3 separate regions of the Homo sapiens genome follow, and all the other regions are linked to region 3. Evidence: fine-mapped expression QTL. A gene starts in region 3. Each other region holds a variant in brackets. All regions are shown on one strand. Distances are from middle to middle. Region 1 overlaps TBC1D24 (TBC1 domain family member 24). Region 2 holds the start of SPSB3 (splA/ryanodine receptor domain and SOCS box containing 3). Region 3 holds the start of PDPK1 (3-phosphoinositide dependent protein kinase 1).

Evidence for each region. PIP is the estimated chance that this variant, and not a neighbour inherited with it, causes the effect.
Region 1: its variant is fine-mapped to the expression of PDPK1 in whole blood (INTERVAL, PIP 0.99).
Region 2: its variant is fine-mapped to the expression of PDPK1 in spinal cord (GTEx, PIP 0.98).

Annotation. Positions count from the first base shown.
Region 1 is chr16:2,500,745-2,508,913 of GRCh38, reverse strand. TBC1D24 (TBC1 domain family member 24) reads right to left here. Exons shown (of 8, transcript NM_001199107.2): 8 at 3,184-8,110. The coding sequence ends at 7,956. Among named protein-coding and RNA genes, the nearest start is that of ATP6V0C, 9.1 kb to the left of the region's middle. RefSeq lists enhancers at 724-1,224, 1,225-1,725, 8,003-8,169. The variant G/A (reference allele first, on the strand shown) is at 3,477.
Region 2 is chr16:1,782,372-1,790,540 of GRCh38, reverse strand. It overlaps SPSB3 (splA/ryanodine receptor domain and SOCS box containing 3), which reads left to right and starts at 7,970. Exons shown (of 7, transcript NM_080861.4): 1 at 7,970-8,039. It overlaps NUBP2 (NUBP iron-sulfur cluster assembly factor 2, cytosolic), which reads right to left and starts at 7,581. Exons shown (of 7, transcript NM_012225.4): 1 at 7,505-7,581; 2 at 3,886-4,004; 3 at 3,586-3,784; 4 at 2,710-2,864; 5 at 2,490-2,600; 6 at 2,334-2,403; 7 at 1,355-1,972. The coding sequence starts at 7,520. The coding sequence ends at 1,827. It overlaps IGFALS (insulin like growth factor binding protein acid labile subunit), which reads left to right. Exons shown (of 2, transcript NM_004970.3): 2 at 1-128. RefSeq lists silencers at 3,406-3,574, 6,639-6,865, 7,293-7,502, 8,003-8,169 and an enhancer at 7,643-7,792. The variant C/T (reference allele first, on the strand shown) is at 3,879.
Region 3 is chr16:2,534,691-2,542,859 of GRCh38, reverse strand. It overlaps PDPK1 (3-phosphoinositide dependent protein kinase 1), which reads right to left and starts at 4,839. Exons shown (of 14, transcript NM_002613.5): 1 at 4,724-4,839. The coding sequence starts at 4,747. RefSeq lists enhancers at 2,591-2,680, 3,744-4,444 and silencers at 4,563-4,692, 4,703-4,912, 5,023-5,332.

The sequences.
Region 1 (8,169 bases), 34 kb after region 3:
TCACCGCCGCAGCCCTTGCCCGCCTCAGACCCTGATCCATTCATTCAGTTCCCTGAGCACCTACTATTGTGCCAGGTGCTGAGTGAGGCCCCTGCCAGACAAAGACAAGTTAGAGTCCCTACCCTCAAGACCTGGCAGCCTACCAGGGAGCAGTAGCGTCCCCAACGGTACAGCCAATGCCGCACCAGAAGTGTGGTTCCTAGAAGCAGGGGGGACAAGGGAAGGAGGTGCTGGGACTAGCTCGGTGGGTCGCAGAAGAGGTGATCTCTGAATTAGGACTTGAAAGATGAAGAGAGGGCATAGAGCAGGGGAGAAACATGATCCAGTCTGTATTTAAGTAAGTCACAGACTGGTCGGGCACATGGCTCACACCTGTAATCCCAGCACTTTGTGAGGCCAAAGTGGGCGGATCACCTATGGTCAGGAGTTGGAGACCAGCCTGGCCGACATGGTGAAATCCCGTCTGTACTAAAAATGCAAAAATTAGCCGGGTGTGGTGGCGGGTGCCTGTAATCCCAGCTACTAGGGAGGCTGAGGCAGGATAATCGCTTGAACCCGGGACGGGGAGGTTGCAGTGAGCAGAGATCATGCCACTGCACTCCAGCCTGGGTGACAGAGCAAGACTCCATCTCAAAAAAACAAAAACATGAAAATGAAACCCAAAGTCATAAGATAGAGAGGCATGGGGAGCAGCTGCTTGCTGGGGCCAGGTTTTCCTTTAGGAGTGGGGAAATGCCATGGAACTGGAGGTGGTGGTTCCACAACATGCTCATTCATGCAACCACCACCTCTGTCTGGGGTCGTTCAAATGGTTGGATAGTATGTCAATTTCACTTCAATTTTTTTAAAAGAAAAATGAAACAGTTTCATGGCAGGCTAGAGGGAAGACTGTGCCCTGGACACCTGCCACAGACTAGGCCCGGAAAGCAGCCTGAGGGAAGGCTGCTGGTAGAGGCGGCAGGAAGGGAGGGGGCGGCACTGCCTGGCCAAGCTCTGGGCAGACACCAGCCCCACAGTGAGCTGGCCTGCAGGAGGAAGCAGCCCTGCGCCCCACCTCCCAGGCCAGAGCGCTCTGCACGCCCCGCTCAGGGACAATCTTGCCCAATTCTGGCCTGAGTGTGTGTCCTAATGTCAAGCACAAGACAGTCCGAGCACTTACAGTAAGTGCAAGAGTTACTGCAGGGAGCGTGGCGGGTGTGGGAAGGGGGTGTCCCGCCACCACAGGCCCCAGGAGCACACCTGGAGAATCTCTGATCACCCTGGACGCACAGCAGCAGCGCACACCAACCCACAGGGGCTTCAGTTCATTCTGCAGTGCTAGGCACTCCTGCCCCTTGAGACTGACAGTCTTTAGGACAGGGGGTGGGGAGACCAGCCAACACCTGTCTCAGGTGCTGTGAAGCTAGAACGCGGACCCGGCCTCAGCGGGGAGCTCAGGGAAATCCTGGGAGGGACACTAGGGCCCAGGCATGAGGAGTGGCAAATAGCACGCGCAAAGGCCGGGAAACAGAGGCTTTCAGTTCAGAGGAACTGAAAGAAACCTGGTGCCAGAGAGCCTGTGGCTGTGTTGGGGGCCAAGCTTCCTGCCAGGCTAGCAGACCAGGAGGCCTCTCAGACCCGGGACAGGTGCTGCCCCAACAGTCCCCTGAAGGTACTGAAGGAAGGTGTTCAGAGGAGCAAAGAAAGAGGGCTTGGCAGGAAGGGGCCACCCCCGTGGCCAGTCTGGGGAAGAGGAACCCAGGAGCATAGAGTGGGCAGAGGCAGCTCACGTGACGGCAGGCAGAGGCTCCACAGCAGCTGCAGGGAGGGCCCCCAGCAGCCTCGGTCTCACTGGAGGAACTGGACAGGGAGGGGGCATCTGTGCAGGGCTCAAAAGAAAAAAGGCATTCTATTTTTCTTTGTATTATACCGATCCACAATTAAACACAAGGTACTAAAAAGACGTGGCCGGGCACGGTGGCTCACCCCTATAATCCCAGCACTTTGGGAGGCCGAGGCAGGCGGATAACTTGAGGCCAGGAGTTAGGGACCAGCCCGGCCAACATGGTGAAATCCGGTCTCTACTGAAAATACAAAAATTAGCCGGACATGGTGGCAGGTGCCTGTAATCCCAGCTACTCAGGAGGCTGAGGCAGGAGGATACCTCAAACCTGGAAGTTGGAAGTTGCAGTGAGCCAAGATCGCACCACCACATTCCAGGCTGGGCGATACAGCAAGACTCCGTCTCAAACAAAAAAAAAGACATTCATTAATATTGACGTGGCCAGGCGCGGTGGCTCACGCCTGTAATCCCAGCACTTTGCGAGGCCGAGGCGGGTGGATCACGAGGTCAGGAGATAATTCCATCCTAGCTAACAGGGTGAAACCCCGTCTCTACTAAAAATACAAAAAAATTAGCCGGGCGTGGTGGCAGGTGCCTGTAGTCCCAGCTACTCGGGAGGCTGAGGCAGGAGAATGGTGTGAACCCAGGAGGTGGGGCTTGCAGTGAGCCGAGATTGAACCACTGCAGTCCAGCCTAGGTGGCAGAGTGAGAGTCCATCTCAAAAAAAAAAAAATTATATATATATATATATATATATAGAGAGAGAGAGAGAGAGAGAGAGAGAGAGAGACGCAAACTTTCAAAGGAAATACTCATTTTGAAATTTTGAATGAGAAAGGTTGAGTTTGTTTTTTGATACTCGTGTTTTACACACGACAGGGGTTCTTCACTATTTTTTTGTGGAGATGGAGTCTCCCTGTGCTGCCCAGGCTGCTCTCAAACTCCTGGCCTCAAACAATCCACCCACCTCAGCCTCCTAAAGTCTTGGGATTACGGGTGTGAGCCACCACACCCGGCCTTGACAGGGATTCCTGATGAAACGTCTGACACTGATTCTTCATGGTGACTCCTCTAAGTCTCCCTAAGACTTTGCTGAGTGTAGCTGTCCACACAGCAGGCACTAGGAACAAAAGAAAACAAGACGGATCAGGGAATGCTGCCGTTCTCACCGGCCACGGCTGCAAATGCGACAGACATGTACCTGTCGCCTCAGTGGAGAGACTCGCTGGTGACCACAATGCGCAGATGCGGTCTTGTCAACCTAGCGCCTCCCTCTCTCCTCCAACACCCTGGAGAAGAGGCGTCCAGGACTTCCCATCCCTCTAAGCCTTCTCATAGCAAGTTATTTCACAGTGACCTTCTTTTACCAGTTCTCGATTTTATTTAGGACTCAAATTAACACCAACCAAACATATCACTAACTCACTTATTTTCACATTTTCAAAGTTGGATTGTGCTGCAAATCCATACATTTGTGCTCACTACACATTTTTTTTATTACATTCATTGAGAGGCTCCAAAGCATCAGTCCAATAAACATTTTTCCAGCCCGATAACCATCCTTCGTAAGAACTAAGAGGTAAAATCATTCACACAACTATTTTTTCCCTTCTATCCTTAGCTCATAAGCATTTGACCAAATGCCAATGTTTTT[G/A]CCAGTTCATGTTGTCCGTGCCTTATCACAAGTGACATGTCTACAGGACACGGTATCCACTGACTTTGCTTCCTTGGTCCCAAGAAAAGGTGTTGACAAATTCCATAGTTTGGTAAAATGAGTGAGTCTGCAATTGTGGGAGGCATTTTGTTTTTAGCAATGAATCACATTACATTGTACCTAACTTCTCAAGCACAATCTGATACTAAGATGATGAAGATAGTTCTTAAAAACTCTTTATACCAGATGATTTTTAAAAATCCACATACTTTTCTACCTAACATAGATGTTGTAGGGTGAAGAGCCTATGAGGCTTGTTTGGCACTCCTGCTTCATTTGATAATTTCTCCACGCAAACAAGACATTTAGGCTGAGAAAGAGAACCAGCAAGAATCTGGATGAGCTGGGCACAGCAGCTCACGCCTGTAATCCCAGAATTTAGGGAGGCAGAGGCGGGAGGATTGCTTGAGTCCAGGAGTTCAAGACTAGCCTGGGCAACACAGCAAGACTATGTTCTCCACAAAAAGGGAGGAAAAAAATCTATATGAACCCAAATTTGAGGCAGGTGCTGTATTGCCTAATTAGTGGCCATTTGGGTTTTTTTGACCAGTGGTTTTGTGAGTTTGATGATATTCTGGACTTAGTAAAAATGTGAGAAAGTAAACAACTGTAAAAATTAAATCGATTCCTGGACAGTGGGAAAAAAACGGGGCAATCTCGGCTGGGCGCGGTTGCTCACGCCTGTAATCCCAGCACTTTGGGAGGCCGAGGAGGGCAGATCACGAGGTCAGGAGATCAAGACCATCCTGGCTAACACGGTGAAACCCCATCTCTACTAAAAATATAAAAAAATTAGCCGGGTGTGGTAGCAGGTGCCTGTAGTCCCAGCTACTCAGGAGGCTGAGGCAGGAGAATGGCGTGAATCCGGGAGGCGGGGCTTGCGGTGAGCCGAGATCGCGCCACTGCACTCCAGCCTGGGCGACAGAGCGAGACTCTGTCTCAAAAAAAAAAAAAAAAAAAAAAGGGACAATCTCAATAGGCCTGTGGTTTAGTTAACAGCAATGCAACAATGCTTATTTCTTTGTTTTGATATTGACTTGGGGGAAGGTGAGGGTACATGGAAACCCTGTACCGTCTCTGCAACTCTTCTGCAAATCAAAAATTACTTCAAAATAAAAAGGTACACAACTAAATTACTAAATATAAACTACTCAAGGAGACTGCAAAGGCTTTATGGGTTCAGAAAGTGGATAAGAGAAATATGAAGGCCTCTGAAATCTTCAAAACGTTTTAAAACAAATTCCACTGAAAAACTCAAAAAATGAAGTATGCGGCTTACAAAAATAGAAAAATTAAAATACTTTAGTTCATTAAAACTCTGAAAAAATTCAAGTACAAATGACTTACTCTCATAAGTTCTTTTGCTTAAACTGATTTTCTGAAGCCCCAAAGGCATATAATCTGCTTTAATGAATTCATTTAATAAACTATTTTAAATTAGGTGCAATTGTTGTTTTAAAAATAAATGTTAAACATTTATTCAGCACAAAGTGGTCTATTCAAAAAAATTAAAAAATAGGCTAGGCGCGGTGGCTCACGCCTGTAATCCCAGCACTTTGGGAGGCTGAGGGGGGGGTGGATCACGAGGTCAGGAGTTCAAGACCAGCCTGACCAACACAGTGAAACCCTGCCTCTACTAAAAATACAAAAAAAATTTAGCTGGGCGTGGTGGCGTATGCCTGTAATCCCAGCTACTCAGGAGGCTGAGGCAGGAGAATCGCTTGAACCCAGGAGGCGGAGGTTGCAGTGAGCCAAGATCATGCCACTGCACTCCAGCCTGGGTGACTCTGTCCCAAAAAAAAAAAAAATCAAAAAATAATTCTTTGAATGTTTCTAAAAACAAATGATAATTTATTATGCAGTTTCAACAAATGTTGGCTTTTTTTTTTTTTAAACAAAGAATGGCTACTTCATAGGCAGAGCAGCCACTTTTGGCTAATTTTTAACATCCAAAGCTAATAAATAATCAAGAAGAAATAGAGAACATTAACAAAATAAATTATGTTCTATTTGGGAATACCTAATATCAGATACTAACAAGTACAGTGATAAGAATAAAAAAGATAATAATCACACATACCTTCTAGGTTAGTAGAAAAGTTAGGAAAAGATATTAAATTTAAAGAAACAATATTTTGCATGCACACAAAAAACAAAGAACTTCGCTCATGATGTGGAAATCATGACCCAGCAGCAATCCGTCTTCCTGGTCCAGATCACTGGAAGGCCCGGGTGGGGCCCCCTGGGGGCAGCCACGCAGAACCTGCTGGACTTAACTCGCCAGAAAAATCACCACCCAGTTCAGGAAGTTTGCAGAGGGAAACCTACAAATGGTCCACGGATATGACTTCCCTGCTCCTGGAGGGCTCCCTCTGGAAGAGGCTTGCAGCATTCCAGTCATAGAATGTGGGTGAGCACTACAGCGGGCAGCCTCCCACACCTGCTTGGCTGTAGGCCCAGGAAGCCCCCGGAGGCCCCTCTGGCTGAAGAGATCAGACTCAGCTTGGAGCCCTGGAGTTGATGCAGCAAGACCATGTTTAATGAACACCAAAGCTGGCGGTACAGATGAGGGCCTCAGGGGCTCAGGCGGGGGCCTGGAGGGCTGCGGTGGGCTGAGATGAGTGGCGACTTCCCTCCCATACCTCTCCCCGTGAGAGGGATTCACCCCATCCCCCTGCGAGCCTCTCAACAGTCCTGTGAGGAGGACAGCAGGGCATGGGGACTGGCCCCATTTCACAGCTGGGGAAACTGAGTTCCAGACGGGTTTGTCAGCTTGCCCAAAGCCACACAGGGTTCCCGGTCCTTCCTCCTGCACCACTGTGCGCCCAGTCAGAGGCTACATGAGCAGATGGTCAGGGGAGGCTAAAGCCCCATGGGAGGAGCAGGCAATGGTGTGGGGATGGAAAGTGGCACGGTGCAGGGGACTCCAAGTGGCACTGGCTGGAGGCCAGCAGGGACGGGGGTGGGGGCAGGACTGCTGGTACCTGCCTCTGTGACCCAGGCTTCCATGGTCCCAGAACAGCCACTTGGGCCTCTGTGTCTCCCTTCTCCCCTCCGTGGTGACCAGACCCTCAAGACGAGTTGAAGGAGGTCATGGGGCATGGAGGGAGGTCACAAGGCAGGGGGCTGCCCCCTATAGTGCCCAGAGGCAAGGCCTCCCCTGGCACCTACCTGCGTCTGGCCAGCGCAGGGCTCAGGCAGGGCAGGGGCCCAGGGGCCCAAAGGCTGTAAGGTGAGAGGCTCACAGAAAACCCTGACACGTGGCCAGCCACAGCACCACAAGAGGGACAGAGGGAGGACATGCATCCATGCAAGGTGGCCAAGGAGGTGCTGTGTGGCCAGGGCCAGGGGAGGGCACGGGGCCTGGTGCAGAGAAGCAGTTGGGGCTGCACTGAGATGAGCATGCCACAAAGAGGGGCTTGGGCGTGACCCTGGGCCCCAGGTCATTGCAATGACAAAGAGGTGAAATGGGCAGCTGCAGAGGCTACAGGAGCTCAAGGAGGCCTGGGCTGGAAGGGAGGGGAGCTGAGAAGCCCCCTGGGTCCAGGCTTCTCTGGGCAGACCCCTGGAAATGGAGCTTGCTGGTCTGGGTCGGTCCCTGAGGGCCTCTCCCGGGGCTACCTCTTCAGATGGGAACACGCAGGGAGGCCCAGCAAAAGCTTCAGGCTCTGCAGAAACACAAGGACATGTGACATCCCCCTCCAGCTCCCACCCTCCCTGGGGGTGGAGCCCAGCACAAATCCCACCCTCCTCCTCCCACCCAGCAGCTCCCAAACGCAGCCCAGGGGAGCCTCAGAGGCAGCCAAGAAGGGTTAATGTGAGAGGTGGCCCAGGAGGCCTGGGGAGGGAACTGGGGCAAACGCCCAGGACAGGGGGTGGGGTCCGCCAGGGGGCAGGCCCAAGGGTGCCAGTCTGTTCTCGGGATCTACGCTGGGATTCAGTCGCCAGCCAGCCAGGCTGCAGGGCCCTGCTCAGGAGGGCGCGATGCTATGCGGCACCAGCAGGGGGCACCACAGGCCCACCCTTAGCTGCACGTTCCCACTGCCGTTGTACTCCCACCCCAGGGGCTCAGGCTGCCTAGAGAGGCTCAGGGGCAGCAAGACCCAGACACTCCCAAGGCCTTGGGCTATGGAAGCCTCCACGGAGGAGGAAGGTACTTCCTATGCCAGCTCTGGGTGGGGCTGGGGGCACAGCAGGCCCTCCAGCTCTGACCCAGATGCAGGTGGACTGGGGAAGCCCAGCCCAAACCCCAGGTAGAGGCAGCAGCAGGTCCAGGCAACGCCAGGCTTGGCCATGGGGTCCTGCCGTCCCCCAACCCTGCCTACCACATGGGGGTTTCATCTGCTCTCTGCTGCCCGAGGCGGCAGCCCAGCCTCGGCCCACCGCCCCACCACGGCTCAGTCACCGTGGCACAGGCCGTCACTGGGTGTCAGGGTCCTGGAAGCCCCAGGCCTCCACGGCAGCAATGAGGAAGTTCTCGGAGCAGAGGGGCTGGTTGTTGAAGGTGTCGCAGTGGCTTGTGCGGCCCCGGTTCAGGTCCCCATCGATGTAGAGCGCCTGGCCGCCTCCTCCCCCTGCAGGATGCTCAGGTCAGTGGCGGCCTGACTGCCCTATCAGCACTGACCCAGGCACC
Region 2 (8,169 bases), 750 kb after region 3:
GACAGGTCCTCAGTGTCCTCAGGGGCCTGCCCAGTGCACTTGCTGGAAGACGCAAGGGCCTGATGGGGTGGAAGGCATGGCGGCCCCCCCAGCTGTCATCAATTAAAGGCAAAGGCAATCGAATCTAACAGGCACAGTGGGTGACTGCGAACGTGAAACCAGGGAGGGGGCTGGGGGCTCGGCGCGCAGCTGTGGTCTCAGAGCTTTGGGAGGCCGAGGCGGGCGGATCGCTTGAGCCCAGGAGTTTGAGAGACCGTCCTGGGCAACACAAGAGAGACCCCGTCTCTACAAAAAATAAAAAAAATTAGCATAGCATGGTGGCCCATGCCTGTGGTCCTAGGGAGGCCGAGGCAGGAGGACTACTGGAGCCTGGGAGGTAGAGGCTGCCGTGAGCCAAGACTGCACCACTGCACTCCAGCCTGGGCGGCAGAGCAACACCCTGTCTCAAAAAAACCCACCTGGCTCAGGGGAGGGGAGGATGGTGTTGCCTGGGTACGCCTTGGTCTCCTCACCTCTCTCCTCCCCGGCTTGGCCACGCCCAGGGCCCCCGCCTGGATCCTGCCCCGCCACCGCCCTGGCCAACTGCCCCACACCCATGTGTCTTCCTGGTCCCCGTGGCTGCCCCTCGGGCTCCCCAGAACATCCTCCAGGAATGATGGCACCAACTCGAATCCCCAGGGGCTCTGCGTCTCACCCCTCCTCTTTGAGGGATCGCCCTGAGGACCAGGCAGTGTCCCCGAGGGGTGTGGTCCAGGCAGCCAGGGCGCGGCTGAGGTGGGGTGAGGAGGGAGCGCGGGGCGGGCCGTCCGCCTTGCGTGGGAAGCCGCACCCCCTGCAGATGCCGTGGGCGTTTGTCTCTGCCCCCCCCAGGCACCGGCATCGTCAGCCCAGGTGCTCCTGGTGCCCTCTCACCCACCCAGAGGCCGCCCGGGTTGGTTCCGGGCCCCCACCTCCAGGGTCCTCCCCTGCTGAAGGCTGAGCTCTTCCTTTGGGAAAAATGGCGCGTTCTGCTTTCTGGAAGGGCTTTCCTTTCGGGTCTCACTGGGAAGAGGTGCAGGGGACCCCTGGGATTGGAGCTCCCTTCTCAACCTGACTTCTGGTCTCTGTCCCGGGAGGGGCCCCTTTAGTGTCCCAGGGAGGCCATTCTTCCACGGCGAAGGGGCCAGCTGTCAGGTTTATCACAAAATCTCCCCGAATTCCCACCAAATAAGATGCAAACACATCAGCACCTGGGCCCAGGGGCTTGTTGACAACGGAACGAACGAACCTGCCGGCCTGGCCCAGTCCAGCCCAGAAACTTACAGAAGCAGGTGCTGTCTGACCCCGAAGGACAGAAGACTCTAGAAACATCAGATCTGTCGCCACAGCAGCGGACACGTTTAATGGCAGGCGCCTCTACAGTTACAAAACATGCCTGAGGTCAGTTCGCCCCCTTAGGGGGCACTCCCCGAGCTAAACACAGATGACAGCGACCCAGGGTGCTGGAGGCCCGGGGTCACCTGAGGACTGCAGAAGTCCCGCGCTCCGCTAACTGTGTGGACACGCGGCTGCCAGGGGCACAGGTAGGCAACATGGATGGGAAGAGAGCCCAGGCCGCCCCCGTCTCACAGCTGCAGAGCACGCAGACCACGGCACTGCAGGCCAACCAGGCAGAGCTGCTGGTGCGACACATCCTGGGGCTGGGCTGGTCGGGGAGAAGCTCTCCGGCTGACGCTGCCTGGGCCTGCCCCTGCAGGGCCCGGGAACCGAGCCCAGGCCTCTGTTTCTCTGAGAGGCTGGAGCAGAGCCCTTGGTGGCCCTGGAAAGCGGCTGCAAGGTGGCCTTAGTCAGGGGAGGCACGCGGGCGTCGCGTCCAGAATCTTCTGGGCTATGGAGGTGAGTGCAGCGAAGGCGGGGCTCCCAGGGAACTCCTGGATGAAGTCGTGGCCCTCCTCCAGGGTCCTCATGAGCGCAGGGTCCAGGGGCACGGAGCCTGCAGGGCACAGTGGAGGCGGTGGCGCCATGTCCGCACCTTCCACTCCCACCATTGGCTCAGCTGGACGCACCCGAACCACCCGTGGCCTTAGAGGGGATTGAGGCGCTGCCAGACGATTTCCACCTCCAGACCCGCGGCCCTCCCAGCAGGCTGGGTCCTGCCACCCGAGAGGGCCCTGAGAAGGGCGCGGGCGAATGACCTGCAGGTCTCAGCGGCATGGCGTGTGGCCCGAGAAGAGAGGAGGAAACCGCTCCCGTCCCCTCCTCTCCCTTGGGCACTGGGGGCATGGAGGTCAAACCCGCCCAGGGCAGAGATGGAATGGGAGGCCGCGACCCCAGCACCAGCTTGGGACACTCACCTAAGAAGGGCACCCCGGCGAGCTGGGCCAGCTCCTCTCCGCCGCCCCTGGAGAAGACGCTGGTGCACTCCTAGGAGACGGTGGTGAGCCCAGCACTGCCCAAAGCCCCCACCGGCCAGGTGCTGCCTCGCCCCCTCTGCAACCCCCGGGACTCACCGTGCAGTGTGGGCAGGTGAAGCCGCTCATATTCTCCACGATTCCCATCACCCGCAAGCCCGTCTTCCTACAGAAGGTCAGCTCGCGCCTCACGTCCCCCACGGACACCGCCTGCGGGGCAGGAGCCGAGGCCACGGTCAGCCAGGCGCACCAGCAGGGACACCCGCCCAGCCCTCTGGGAAGCCACCCACAGGGACTCGGGAAGGTGCCGCAGCGCTACCTGGGGCGTGGTGACCACGAGGGCCCCCAGGGGCTGGTAGGGACGCAGGGCTTCTATGGTGGCCATGTGCTCATCGGAGGTCCCCGGGGGCGTGTCCACCACCAGGTAGTCCAGCTCCCCCCAGGCCACGTCGGACACAAACTGCTTTATCAGCGCTGCAAAGACGGGGCAGACGGGGCGGTCAGGGCAGGGCAGGTCTGCACACGTGGCCCTGCGCCACTAAGAACCAGCCAGGTCAGGCCGAGGGGCTGCAGTCCATCAGGTGTCACTTGCCACCAGCCTCCATCACAGGCTCTCGGGAGGCCCTGGCCCGCTGCAGGAGTGCAAAGATGGGGCCGGGGCCATTACAGCGTCCCTTTCTGCAGTGTCTGGCCCCTGCCCACAGAGCCCCCGCTGACTCCCCGAGGCCCCAAATCAGAACACGGAGCCAGGACCCTCCAGGCGTCTGTACCCACACATGGGAGCACCCACATTCTCCGTGGTGGATGCCCCACTGGTGCACCCACAGCCTGCGCCTCACTCCCACCAGCCTCTCCCTGCCTTTGGGGGCGTCTAATGCCACCTGCTCCAGAGGCACCAGAACCCCCTCAGCTCTGCCCCTATGACCTGCCACACTGGGGCCTCAGGTCCCTGCATGCCATGGCCAGGGTCTCAGCAGACCCCACTCCCTCTGACCGGGAGTTGGGGACAGCTGTGTGGCAGCACGGACCCAACTGGAGACACACCGCCAGCCTGAGCCCTGTGCCTGGTCGTGGGTGTCATGTGCAGGTCCCCAGGAACAGGCCTGGCTGCTGAAGAGGAACATTTCCACAGGAGAGGCCGGCACGGACGCTAACCCCCTTCACCAGGACGGCGGACGCGCCGCCCGGCCGTTACCGTTTTTCTTGGGGCCTCTCCACACCACGGCCTCGTCCGGCTTCTCCAGCAGGAAGCCCACAGACATGAGCGAGATGCTCTGCTCCCGGTCCAGGAAGACGGGTGCCCAGCCGCGGTCGCACTGGTGCACAGCCCTGCCCTGCGCCCCGAGCATGCGGGGGATACTGGGGCCACACAGGTCCACATCCAGGATTCCCACCTGCAAGGAGCGGCACAGCCTAGGCCGGGGGCACCGCCAGGCCTCCACCGGGATGCGGGCAGCTGCCCGGGGCTCCGCCCAGTGAGGGGTAGGG[C/T]GCTCACCTTCTTGCCTGCATGGCGCAGTGCCAGGGCCAGCTCCGTGGAGATGGTGCTTTTCCCAACGCCCCCCTTTCCTGAGAGGACCAGGATGATGTGCCTGACGCCGGCCAGGTTTCCAGGCTCTGGGCGGAAACACGACAGAGAAGGTCAGGGCTCCTGGTGCCCACTGTGCCCACACACGCGGGGTCACCCACTGCCTCTTGCACCCACGTTCTGAGCGGGGCAGTGGTGAATCGCCAGACCCAGAGGCAGCCCGTGCCCCACTTCGCCCCGATGTAAAGACCTCCAGGCAGGTCCCCTGCAGCCCCAGACCCGGGGGGACCCTCTAAGACCACGGCACTCCCTGCACCTGCCTGAGGCGGCGCTGCTGAGAGTGGAAACTGCCCAACTCCTCTCGCTGTGTGGAAGGGTGCATGCGTTCCTTCGTGCGCGTGTGCAAACACACACGTGGGTCACATGATCATGAAACTGCCAGCCCCCTGCTATTTCTAACGGGAACCAGACTCCACTCTTTCCCCAGCCAGTGCACCTGGGCTCGGCAGAGGCAGCAGAGGGCCCAGGGTGGGTGGCAACAACCACGCGTTGTCACACACCAGCGTCCCCGGCTCTCGGTCCCTGCAATGTGCGGTAAGTGAGGGGAGCCGGCTGCTTCCAGCACAGCTCCAGCTCCTCTTCCTTCCAGGGTCCCATCCTGTCCCTGCCACACGGCAGGGGCTGCTGTGTGCAGATACCTTGGCAAAACCCCTGCATTCTCACCCCGGCGCCACCGCTGAGGCCATGCCCCTTGTCTCCAGCAAGCTGCTCCATCCCCGACAGGTCCTTGGAGGGTGCATGTGAGGGGCTCAACACATGATGCGTAAAACCTGCCCCCTTCTGATCCGCCTCTCAAGGGCACGTTCAAAGGCTCCCAAGTCCAAAGCCTCCCGGAGAACCTGGCATGCAGGCGGGTCCTCAGACCTACAGAGGCTGCCTGAGGTCTCCTCCAGGGGACGCGGAAAAGGCAGCCCCAGCCCCACACTCCTGCAAACACAAAGCCCCGAGACCACGGCCTCCCGGTCACCCCTGGGGCAATAAAAGGGGTTCTGACTTAAATTACTTCAACACCAAGAGGTACCAGAAGTGGCCCGTGCAGAGAGGGAGCATGCACTTCTGTAGCTGCCGGGGACTCTGTCAGGCCTGGGTCCTGACTGCCATGCTGCCATCAGTGCTGGCACCAGCGGCAGTGTTAACCCCCAGGGGCTCTCCTCGTTGGCAGAGGTGGGGGAATGGTGCCTGTCTGGTGTGTTGGGCTGAGCACCATGGTAAATGCAGGCCTTAGTGTCAGGAACCGGGACAACAACCCTGAGGGTTCCCCCAAGAACATTTCACTTCTCAGCAAACTGAGGCAGCTCCTAAGCAGATTGTCAGCAAAGCACAGTCAGCATGAGCCTGCCGGGTGGGGCAGTGGGGCTGGAAGTGCAGGAAGGAGGCGAAGCACCATCTCCCCGAGGAAGGCGAGTGCGCTCTCCATGGACAATGAGTCCCGGTCAGCTTTATGGGTTAGCAAATCCAGATCATTCCACGTGGTGGACAAATATATTTTTACAGTAAATGTATATTTTTATTTTGAGAGGGGGTCTCATTCTGTCGCCCAGGCTGGAGTACAGTGGCGCAATCTCGGCTCACTGCAACCTCCGCCTCCTGGGTCCAAGCAATTCTCGTGCCTCAGCCTCCCACGCCTCAGCTTCCAGAGTACCTGGGACCACAGGCGTGCGCCACCATGCCCAGCTAATTTTTTATTTTTTTCGTAGAGACTGTTTCTCTATGTTGGCCATGCTGGTCTCAAATCTGACCTCAAGTGATCTGCCCGCCTCGGCCTCCCAAAGTGCTGGGATTACAGGCATGAGCCAACTTGCCCAGCCTAGGCCTTTTGAATTTTTATGTGCATATTTTCCCCGTTTAAAGAAAGCTTGGGGCCGGGCGCGGTGTCTCACGCCTGTAATCCCAGCACTTTGGGAGGCCGAGGTGGGTGGATCACCTGAGGTCAGGAGTTCGAGACCAGCCTGGCCAACATGGCGAAACCCTGTCTCTACTAAAAATACAAAAAAAATTAGCCAGGCGTGGTGGCGTGTGCCTGTTATCCCAGCTATTTGGGAGGCTGAGGCAGGAGAACTGCTTGAACTTGGGAGGTGGAGATTGCAGTGAGCCGTCATCGAGATTGTGCCACTGCACTCCAGCCTGGGCAACGGAGCGAGTCTCCGTCTCCCCCCAACAAAAAAACGAAAGCTTGGACTAGGTGCAGTGACTCACGCCAGTAATCCCAGCACTCTGAGAGGCCAAAGTGGAAGGATCATTTCGGTCCAGGAGGAGTTCCGCACCACTCTCAATAACGTATTCAGACCCCATGTCTACACATTAAAAATGTAGCCAAGCGGGGTGGTGCATCCTGTGGTCCCAGGTGCTCAGGAGGCTGAGGTGGGAGGGTCGCTTGAGCCCAGGAGGTCAAGGCTGCAGTGAGTTATGATCGTGCCACTGCACTTCAGCCTTGGCGACAGTTAAGACCCTGTCTCAAAAAAAAAAAAAAGCTTCTATCAATCTCAGTAATATCCTTACTTTGTAGTAAATCCGTCCTGATAATAAGGACAGGCTTTTCCAGGCTTCTCCTCTGGAATAAGACTCCAGCACTGGGCCAGGCGCCGTGGCTCACGCCTGTAATCCCAGCACTTTGGGAGGCTGAGACGGGCGGATCACGAGGTCAGGAGATCGAGACCATCCTGGCTAACACGGTGAAACCCCGTCTCTACTAAAAATACAAAAAATTAGCCGGGCGTGGTGGCGGGCGCCTGTAGTCACAGCTACTCGGGAGGCTGCGGCAGGAGAATGGCGTGAACCCGGGAGGCGGAGCTGGCAGTGAGCCGAGACCGCGCCACTGCACTCCAGCCTGGGCGACAGAACGAGACTCCGTCTCAAAAACAAAAGACTCCAGCACTCGGTTTCTAATCTGTCAGAGTTGTGCTGCAAGACCTTGCTGTCCGAGGAATGTTTTCCTTTTGGTATCGGACTCGAGGTCTCTTAGAAGATAAATGCGGCTCCCACTACTCAGGAGGGCCCACGGCGCTGATCTGGCGAACGGATCGTCCCCACTGGTGTGAATTCTGTCCCGCGCAACTTACACTTTTCTGAACACTGAGAGCGCCACTTCCACAAAGAACTTAAAAGCATGTGAGATTCTGGCGTCCGTCTTACTTTCATGACTGCGCGCGTGTGATTTATTTAGAGACAGGGTCTCGCTCTTGCCCGGGCTGCGGTGCAGTTGCAACCGCGACCTCCAGGATAGCGGGGCCCACAGGCGCCACCGCGCCCGCCTACAACGCGGTGCTCAACAAAGTTAACTTTAAAAGCTCCCCCAACTCCACGACTCAGGCCCTCCGAGATCACGGAGCTTCCACATCGAAGCAGGAGCACGCGGGAAACGACCCTGTTTAGAAAATGCCCGCGCCGCGGCCTCTGGCCCGGCCCAGCCACGCCGGCCGGTGATGGTCGCACCGGAGGCGCGCGACGCAGCGAGGCCGCCCCGGGAAGGGACGCGGCGGGGCCCCAAGCGAGGCCCTGGAGCGGCTCCGCACCCTGGCCCGCCACTCACCGGCCGCCGCCTCCATCCCGCCGCCTCCAGGAGCTCGCGGCTGCAGTCCGCTTACGCCCGCGGGCCGTCAGCCTCCCAGCTAGAGCGAAGGGCCTTCCAACCAATGGGCAGTGCGTGCCCGCCCGTGGCTCTTCTTGACAGGCCTAATCCTGCTGTCCCAGCCAATCAGCTTGCCGGAGGAGCTCTCGATCCGGTCCCGCAGGTTCCGGCGCAGACGATGACACGGACCTACTTTCCGGTCAACGCGGCCTGCGGTACCACCTCCCACCCGGGTCCAATGTGCGCGCGAGCTTTGTCTCCAACCGCTTGGGAACTGACCAATAGGAACGTTGGATTAGGACTGACAGTTCCTGAAACCTCTCGGCAATAGCTTTGTCACCCGACTCCCGCCCCCTCTCCCGAAGCTCCGAGACAGGTGTGCCCGCCCCTCGCCGCCGGAGCCAATGGGCGCAGGGGGCGGGGATTGTTTACGTCTCGCTCCGGGGCGGAAAGTGGGTCAGGGCCGGGCCGGCGGAGCGCGCAGCGGGGGCTGCAGGTGAGTGGCGGGGCACGGGCCGACGTCTCGGGCTCTGGGCGGGCGCGCTGACCTTGCGGGCGCGGCGGTAGCAGCGCGGCCAGGGCGCCGCCTTTGTTCCTCTCCGGAGGGCCGCGCCCGAGAGAGGCTT
Region 3 (8,169 bases):
CACTGTCACCAGCTCCGCAAACACGCAGGAGACGGGGACCTCCAGAACTAACGTCCTTGGTCTCCAGACCTACCTTCAAACCTCATCTTTAAATATTTCGAATCCCTGCGTGCTACAAGCTGACTTGAAACACAGATTGGGCCGGTCCCAGCACGGTGGCTGGTAGAGAGGGCATCTGATCTTGTCTGTGGAATGACGGAAGTCACTGGACTGTCCAGGAACTACATGCCCACCTTCATCAGATGGAAACCACACACTTGTTTATTCTGCAGGGGGCCGTGTGCTCAACAGTGAGCTGCTAATGTCAGGCTTGTCCATCTTTTTCATACACAGGCTCTACAGTACTGTCAGTTCCCAATTCTGTGGGTCCCTGTATAATCCAACTCTTTAAACAGAAACCAGGCTGGGTGCGGCGGCTCATGCCTGTAATCCCAGCACTTTGGGAGGCCGAGGCGGGAGGATCCCTTGAGACCAGAAGTTTGAGTAGCCTGGGCAACATAGTGAGACCTCATCTCAATAAATAAATTAAATAAATAAATAATGTAGGTGGTGCGCACCTGTAATCCCAGCTACTTGGGAGCCTGAGGCACGAGAATCACTTGAACCCATGAGGCGGAGGTTGCAGTGAGCCAAAATCATGCCACTGTACTCCAGCCTGCGTGACAGAACGAGACTGTCTCGAAAAAATAAATAAATAAACAAACAGAAACCAGAATCAGGTGCTCTTATAAGGGATGTGTAGCCCAGAAACTCAATCTTAACACATTCTAAATGACCTGGAATTTCTTGGAGCAAAAATTCCAGTTTAAATATCAGGAAAATTGTCTAGACTAAGAGAATGGAAACGGACTTTGTGCAACCAACATCAGGTACAGAAAAGAGACCCCAACAATCATCATGAACCCAAACAGGCCTTTCTCCTCACTAAGAGAAGAGAACACACACAACCCATGCCTTGTTACTCTTTGAGAAGATGTGCCCTGCCTGTGATCTAGCAGCTAGAGACGGAACATACAACCTGTTCTCAATATTCAAATAATTTTTTAAAGGACATGGTATCACACTGAGCAAGTGAATAATGCAATTCTGCTGTAGAAGAATGCACGGCTGAAAAGACCTGAGCAACTCATGTCCAAAACTTGCAGTTTCCACAGCAGCACTTCCTCCCAGCACACTGCCCTTTGAACCTGCTTTCTAAACAACTGTGCTGGGCAGCCCAGTGGCCACATGTCATCGCACAGCAGGTGTGGAGCAGCATAGAGCACCCTGGCCCTCGCACCTGCTTGGGGGACTGTTTCTGCACCCAGGGCTTCTCTGCAGCCACAACCTGCCCCACACAGAACTGCAGCACCACGTGGCATCCTGTCCATTTCCTCAGAAGGGGAAAGTGCCACGCCAGTGCCCACTCTCTTCCAAACACATCCTCTCAGAAGGGACTGGCCACGCTTGCCCCCTCATTTCTGCAGCGCTTCCCAGTTCATCACCTGCTTGCCAGACTCCGTCTCCCACCGGTGTCAATCAGCTGCCCTGGAGCATCTAAACCCTGGGTCAGGCGGCTCAGGGGATGAGTGCATAGACTGAAAAAGGAACACTCCCTGTTTCTCCCCAAAACTGTGCTGAAGGCAGTCTAGAGGGCCAAGACCTGTCAAGAAGAGCTGCCCAAGGCCTCTTTTCAGGCCCCACATCTCTGCAGGCTGCTGCTGGATCCTTCTCATAAGAACACATCTCAGAAAAGCAGAACAAACCACTTCCCTCTTACCACTGGGAGCTCACCTTGCCAGCTCTAGACTCAGCTTGGACTGGCTGTCAGGGCAACGTTGCGTACAGGAATACATCACACTATGCACCAGACCAGCCACATAAGGAGGAACTCCCCAAAAGGAGAGAGAAAATCGAAAGCCACTTCTCTCCATGCTCCCTGCTTCTCCCCTCACCTTCCCCTAAGGATGCAGCCACCTTTGCAAAAGACAGAACCACCCTAGGGAGGGCAGGAGGCCACTCTGCCTAGTCCCCCAATTCTACCTTCAGCAAAATCATTACATGTTTCTTTGTTCCAAAGGGAGGATTTCAAGCCTCACCCATTCAGAGTATCGGCCCTCAAACAAGGCCGAATCACAGCCTCTTCCCAAACAGCTGCTTTCTGACAGCAGGAGGCTGAAACAGGCCCCGGGGTCACAGAGTTCAGCCATCTGCCAAAGAAATATGTACAGTTCTTCCATATGAAGACACCCCTCCTACCTCCAGCACGGCATGGTCAAGACATTCAGGCCCAATCCCTGGGAAGACATCCTGGGCAGTGGCACTGAAGATTTCCTTACAGAGTGCTGGGCTGAGCTGCCCGGCAGACCCTCCCTCAGGGGCTCCGAACGTGAGGGGCAGGGTGACACTGGAGTCTCTACCACTTATGAGGCAGGTACCTAACGCCTCTGCAGCTCAGCTTCTGCACCCGTAAAATGGGAACAACACCTACCTCGCAATGAGGTGTGAAAGTACCTAGGGAAGCGCCTGTCTTGAGTAGTCAGATCAAGAAATGGTACTCACTGCCTCTGGCCCACTTAGCATCAGACTGGGCCAGGCCACTGTCTGCCTTCACGCTCGCACTGCTCCCCCTGTTGGCTGTCCACGCGGACACACAAGGGAAAGTTCACTGGGAAGGGGGCTTCTCACACAGGGCCTACAGGGCCACCCTAAAGTCCAGATGCAAACCCACTTGAACCCTGAAGATCTATCCATCCTCAGGTGAAAATCCAGGATCAGGGCTGCCTCTACCATTACAGACAGGAAACACGGCATGTTCTCACATACGTACACATGGGGGAATCCAGCTGACAGATGCAAAACGCTCGTTCGTGACACTTCCTCATGTGGAAATCCATCTTGCATTCTATCATTCTTGCTCACTGGATTCCAGTGTTTTTGTGCAAAAAAGCCATCTCATGCGAAGAAAACTGCAGATATGAAATGTCCATCATGTGGAACTGCCAAGGCCATGAGAAAATTTGCTCTTTCCTCTTCCCGTGGATGACACCAAATACACACCTTGCATTGGAACAGCGTTACTGGGTGCGAGTTAACCTCACAAATTTCGCCATGACTGTCACTGGGTGCAGGTTAACCTCACAAACTTCGACATAACTCTCGGCCCCAGCCTCCACTGAGCCTGGCCAATCCGCCTAATTCATGTTTTTATGTTACCCGGGCCACTCTGGTGTACAGCCACACATGTCGAAATAGCGAAAGGCATCCCTTCAACATTTTTCTCAGCTGAACCTTCTTCCTTAACACGCATCTCTACAAAGTCCACGAGTGAGCTGCAGAAAGTTCAAGAGCCTCCTGACGTAGTTACAAAATTCAGCGTCACTCTGCCTTTTTCTCAGAAGAGGGCCCATACCTTTCCTCAGGTTCTCAAACAGACTCACAACCCCCCACTCCCCGCCCCACAAAAAAAAAGATCAAGAACGCCTATCAAAAAGCCACATCTGCCGGGCGTGGTGGCTCACGCCTGTAATCCTAGCACTTTGGGAGGACGAGGCGGGCAGATCACTTGAGGTCAGGAGTTCCAGACCAGCCTGGCCAACATGGCGAAACACCTTCTCTACTAAAAATACAAAAATTAGCCGGGCATGGTGGCATACGCCTGTAATCCCAGCTACTCAGGAGGCTGTGGCAGGAGAATCGCTTGAACCCGGGAGATGGAGGTTGCAGTGAGCTGAGATCGCATCACTGCACTCCAGCCTGCGCGTCGAGAGGGAGACTCCATCAAAAAAAAAAAAAAAAAAAAGCCGCATCCTGGAAGACACGGGATCAATTAAATTTCTTGGGTTTTCCTTCATTTAAAATATTTGCCTTTTAAATCAAATGTTAAAGCCATGTAGACGTTCTTCCATCACCCACTGCACATCGCATACAAGGCATAAATTTTTAAACCGTCGTCCCCAGACTGTAGAACTTAGCATATGGAAAACATAAAAACACGAGGGATACTTTTAGCGATAGAGAGAAAATATAGAAACACCAGCGACACTTTTAGCAAAACATTTCACCCAACAAGTGGTTTGTTTTGGTCCTTCCCCTAAAATCCCTCCTACCTGTCAAGCTCACTTTCCCCTCGGTGATCCTGCACATTCGGCCTCCCAGGGGCTTCCCACAACGCTGAGCACAGCCACGGGCAGCAAAAGCACCCAAATGCCCCTTGGCCGGGCCGTGAAAGGCGAGTTTTCCCGACCACTGTCATCAAGAATCTGGAAAAGGGGGCCCAGGAGCATCAGGTGCTTTCAGCAAGAACTTGCACCTTCTGCTTCTCTCGCAGGCGGAGGCGCCAAGGACCCCGTTCCAGGTGGAAGCCCAGGGCGGTTCCTCTACAGACAGAACCGAAAGGTAACCCTGGAGGCTCGGCTCCAGGCTGCGCCAAGCCGAAAACAAACTTTCCAGGCACTTCCACCCCGCTGGGCCGGGTGACACCTCCCGGCCTCCCCCGCCCTCCGCGCGTCTGTCAGCGCCCCCGGCCAGGCCGCCGCCCGCCGCAACCCAGGCCCGGTCTCCCCGCCGCAGCCAAGCAGCGCCCTCGGCCGGCGCCCGCCATCCCCGGCCCGGCCGCCCGGCTGCAGGTAAGGAGGCACCCGGCCCTCGGGACCCCGGGCCGCCCCGCCTCGCCGGACCCGGGCGGCCGCCGGACCCGGCAGGGTAACAAACCGGCGCGTCCAGTCCGCCGCCGCGCGCTCACCAGCTGGCTGGTGGTCCTGGCCATGGGCCCCGCGTCGGCGCGGGCGCCTCCCCCGCAGCGCTGCGCGGCTCGGCGCCTCCTCAGCGTCCTCCTCCCCGAAGCGGAGCCCCAGCAATGGCCGCCCTCATCCTGCGCCCGCCCCGTCGCCCGCCGCCCCCCGCCCCCGGCGCCGCCCCGCCCCCGCGCGGCGCCGGGCAGGACTTCCGTCGCGCCGCAGCCGACGCCCGCGCCCATTGGCCGCGCCCATCGTCGCTCCGCCGCGGCCTTAGTGGGCTCCGCCTCCGCTCCAGCTGCATTTCCGGGTTGGGGCCTGGCGGGCGGGAGAGGCCCGACCCCGCCTGGGGAGGGGGACCTCGCGCGAACCAATCCCAGGGCCTGCGGGGCGGGGCTGGGCGGGGCTGGGCGGGGCAGGGGGCGAGCTGTCATTCCGGCATCCCAGACCGGGAAACTGAGGCTCAGAGGGGACCAGGCTCCGGCCAAGGTCACGCCCGAGGTAGCGGCGGAGCTGTGCTCGAACCCGGAACTCGGATTCCGGAGCCGGCTCTGCGTAAACTCAGAGGCGCAACTTTGCTAGTTTCACAACTAACAAGCGTTCACGGAAGGAAATCTGGGCTATCAAGTCACATTCACGGCCGGGCACGGTGGCTCACTTTGGGAGGCGGAGGTCGAGGCGGGCGGATCACTTGAGGTGAGGAGTTCGAGGCCAGCCTGCCAACATGGAGAAACCCTGTCTCTACTAAAAATATACAATTAGCCGGGCGCCTTGTAGTTGTTAATGTCGATAATGTTTTTTTGTGTTTTTTTGTTTTGGGTTTTTGGTTTTTTTGAGATGGAAATTTGCTCTGTTGCCCAGGCTGGAGTGCAGTGGCTCGATCTCTGCTCACTGCAACCTCCGCCTCCCGGGTTGAAGCGATTCTCCTGCCTCAGCCTCCCGAGTAGCTGGGACTACAGGCATGTGCCACCACACACAGGCAAATGTTTGTATTTTTTTGTAGAGACAGGGTTTCACCATGTTGGCCAGGGGCTGGTCTCCAACTCCAGTGATCTGTCTGTCTCCGCCTCCCAAAGTGCTGGGATTACAGGTGTGAGTCACCACGCCCGGCCAACTTTATTTTTTTTTGAGACAGAGTCTCTGTCGCCCAGGCTGGAGTGCAGTGGCGCGATCTCGGCTCACTGCAAGCTCCGCCTCCCGGGTTCACTCCATTCTCCTGCCTCAGCCTCTCCGAGTAGCTGGGACTACAGGCGCCCGCCACCACGCCCAGCTAATTTTTTTGTATTTTTAGTAGAGACAGGGTTTCACCGTGGTCTCAATCTCCTGACCTCGTGATCCGCCCGCCTCTGCCTCCCAAAGTGCTGGGATTACAAGCGTGAGCCACCGCGCCCGGCCAACTTTATTTTTTTTTATACTGACACATGCCCATGCAGTTCTTGAGTAATGCACAGAAAAATCGGAAGCAGTGAAGGACAAACAGCTTGAGGAACTAGTACACAGTGAACTCTAGAACACGGAGCCCAGGGTGGAGGAGCCTCGGGGCAGGGGCCAAGGGCCAAGGGTCAAGGGTCACAAGAAGAAAGCATCTGAGCAGGCACCAGGGGACAGGGGAGAGAGGGGCAGCTGAAGGTCAAAGAAGAAAGGACAGTTCTCAGTTGTCCTGGGGGCCCCAGTGGCAGCCAGAATGCTTGGCCAAGCCCAAGGCAAGCTAGACCAGGAAACCCCTCGCCCTCTGGCGACACAGACAAATCTCCCCATGGGTCAGGTCCAGTGGCTCATCCCAGGACACCGCACAGACAGCGGATGTCTCACCTGGCCCAGCACGGTTCTCCCGACCCGGGCTGGAGGAAAGAGACTGACCCCTCTCTTTATCTCACCCTTTCCTGCCGAGAACCTCTGTCTATGGCCAATGGATGACCTCAGGCCAAGAATGCAATAACTTGGCCTGACGTTGTGAGGTCACGGTCCATCCAGGGAGGGGCAAGAAAATGACCACAACCATCCCGGGAGGGGCTGGAAAGCTGCCTCATGTGCGTGGCACTGTGCTGCGTCTACGTGTTCCTCACTCGCCTCTACAATGCTCATGGCACGAGGGAGGAAACGGGGGTGCAGAGGCTAAGGAACGTGCCCAAAGCCCTACAGCTGGTGTATTAGTTATATACTGCTGTGTAACAAATTGCCTCAAAACTTTGATGTGTAAAACAACAAAGAAACTCATGGCTCCTGCGGGTCTGGAATCCAGGAGAGGCCAGGCTGGGTGGTCTGGCTCAGGCTCTCTTGTGAAGTTGCCATCAAGATGCTGCCAGGACTGAGTCATCTAAAGGCTAGAGCAGGGCCGAAAGATTCACTTCCTAAAAGGTTCATTCCCACGTTCCCACAGCTGTGGGCTGGAGGCCTCCGTCCCTCACCAGTGCGGCCTCTTCCCAGGCGTGTGTGTTTTCAAGCCCCAGCAGCTGGCTTTCCCCAGAGCGAGTGGCCCAAGAAAAAGAGAACACACACAAGATAGAAGCCGCTGCGTCTTTAATGACCTAACCTCAGAAGTGACACACCATCACTTCCAACACATCTGCTGGTCACACACAACCCTGGTAGAAAGTGAACGGGCGTGTTTTGGGAGGCTGAGGCAGGAGCACTGCTTGAGGCTAGGTGTTTGAGAGCAGCCTGGGCAACAAAGTGAGACCCTGTCTCTAACAAAAAAAAAACTTTTTAAATAAAATCTTTTAAAAAGTGAAACAAGGTTACACAAGGGTATGAAATCCAGAAGGGGCCATTCCTGGGGGCCCCCCTTCAAGCTAGTTGAGGACAGAGCCAGGATTCCAATCTCAGGGAGAGACACAGAGAAGCTAGAAGCACAGGCCCAGCCTGGACCCTGCAGGTGTGCACACCAGAAGGCCCTGAGTTACAAAGCCAGGGAAGGAAGGGCTCTCCCAGCAAGGATCCCAACCTGGATTGCATCTCTAGACTGACCCTGAAGCTACTCAGTAGCGTCTGGAAAGGAGACTAAAGGGGAAAATAGGGGGCAGGGAGATCAGGTGAGAGAAAAGGGGGCTCTCAAAAGACAAGAGCACTGGCTAGGCGCTGTGGCTCACACCTGTAAGCCCAGCACTTTGGGAGAGTGAGGTGGGTGGATCACTTGAGGTCAGGAGTTGGAGACCAGCCTGGCCAACATGGTGAAACCCCGTCTCTACTAAAAATACAAAAATTAGCCAGGCATGGTGATGGACGCCTGTAATTCCAGCTACTCAGGAAGCTAAGGCAGAAGAATCTCTTGAACTCGGGAGGCAGAGGTTGCAGTGAACCAAGATCGCACCACTGCACTCCAGCCTGGGTGACAGAGGGAGACTCTGTCTTAAAAAAAAAAAAAAAAAAAAGGTCTCCTGGCTGCCTCTGGCCCACAAGGCCCTGGTCACATGTCTGAGGCTCCCAATATACATTCGCTGGGCTGCGGATACAT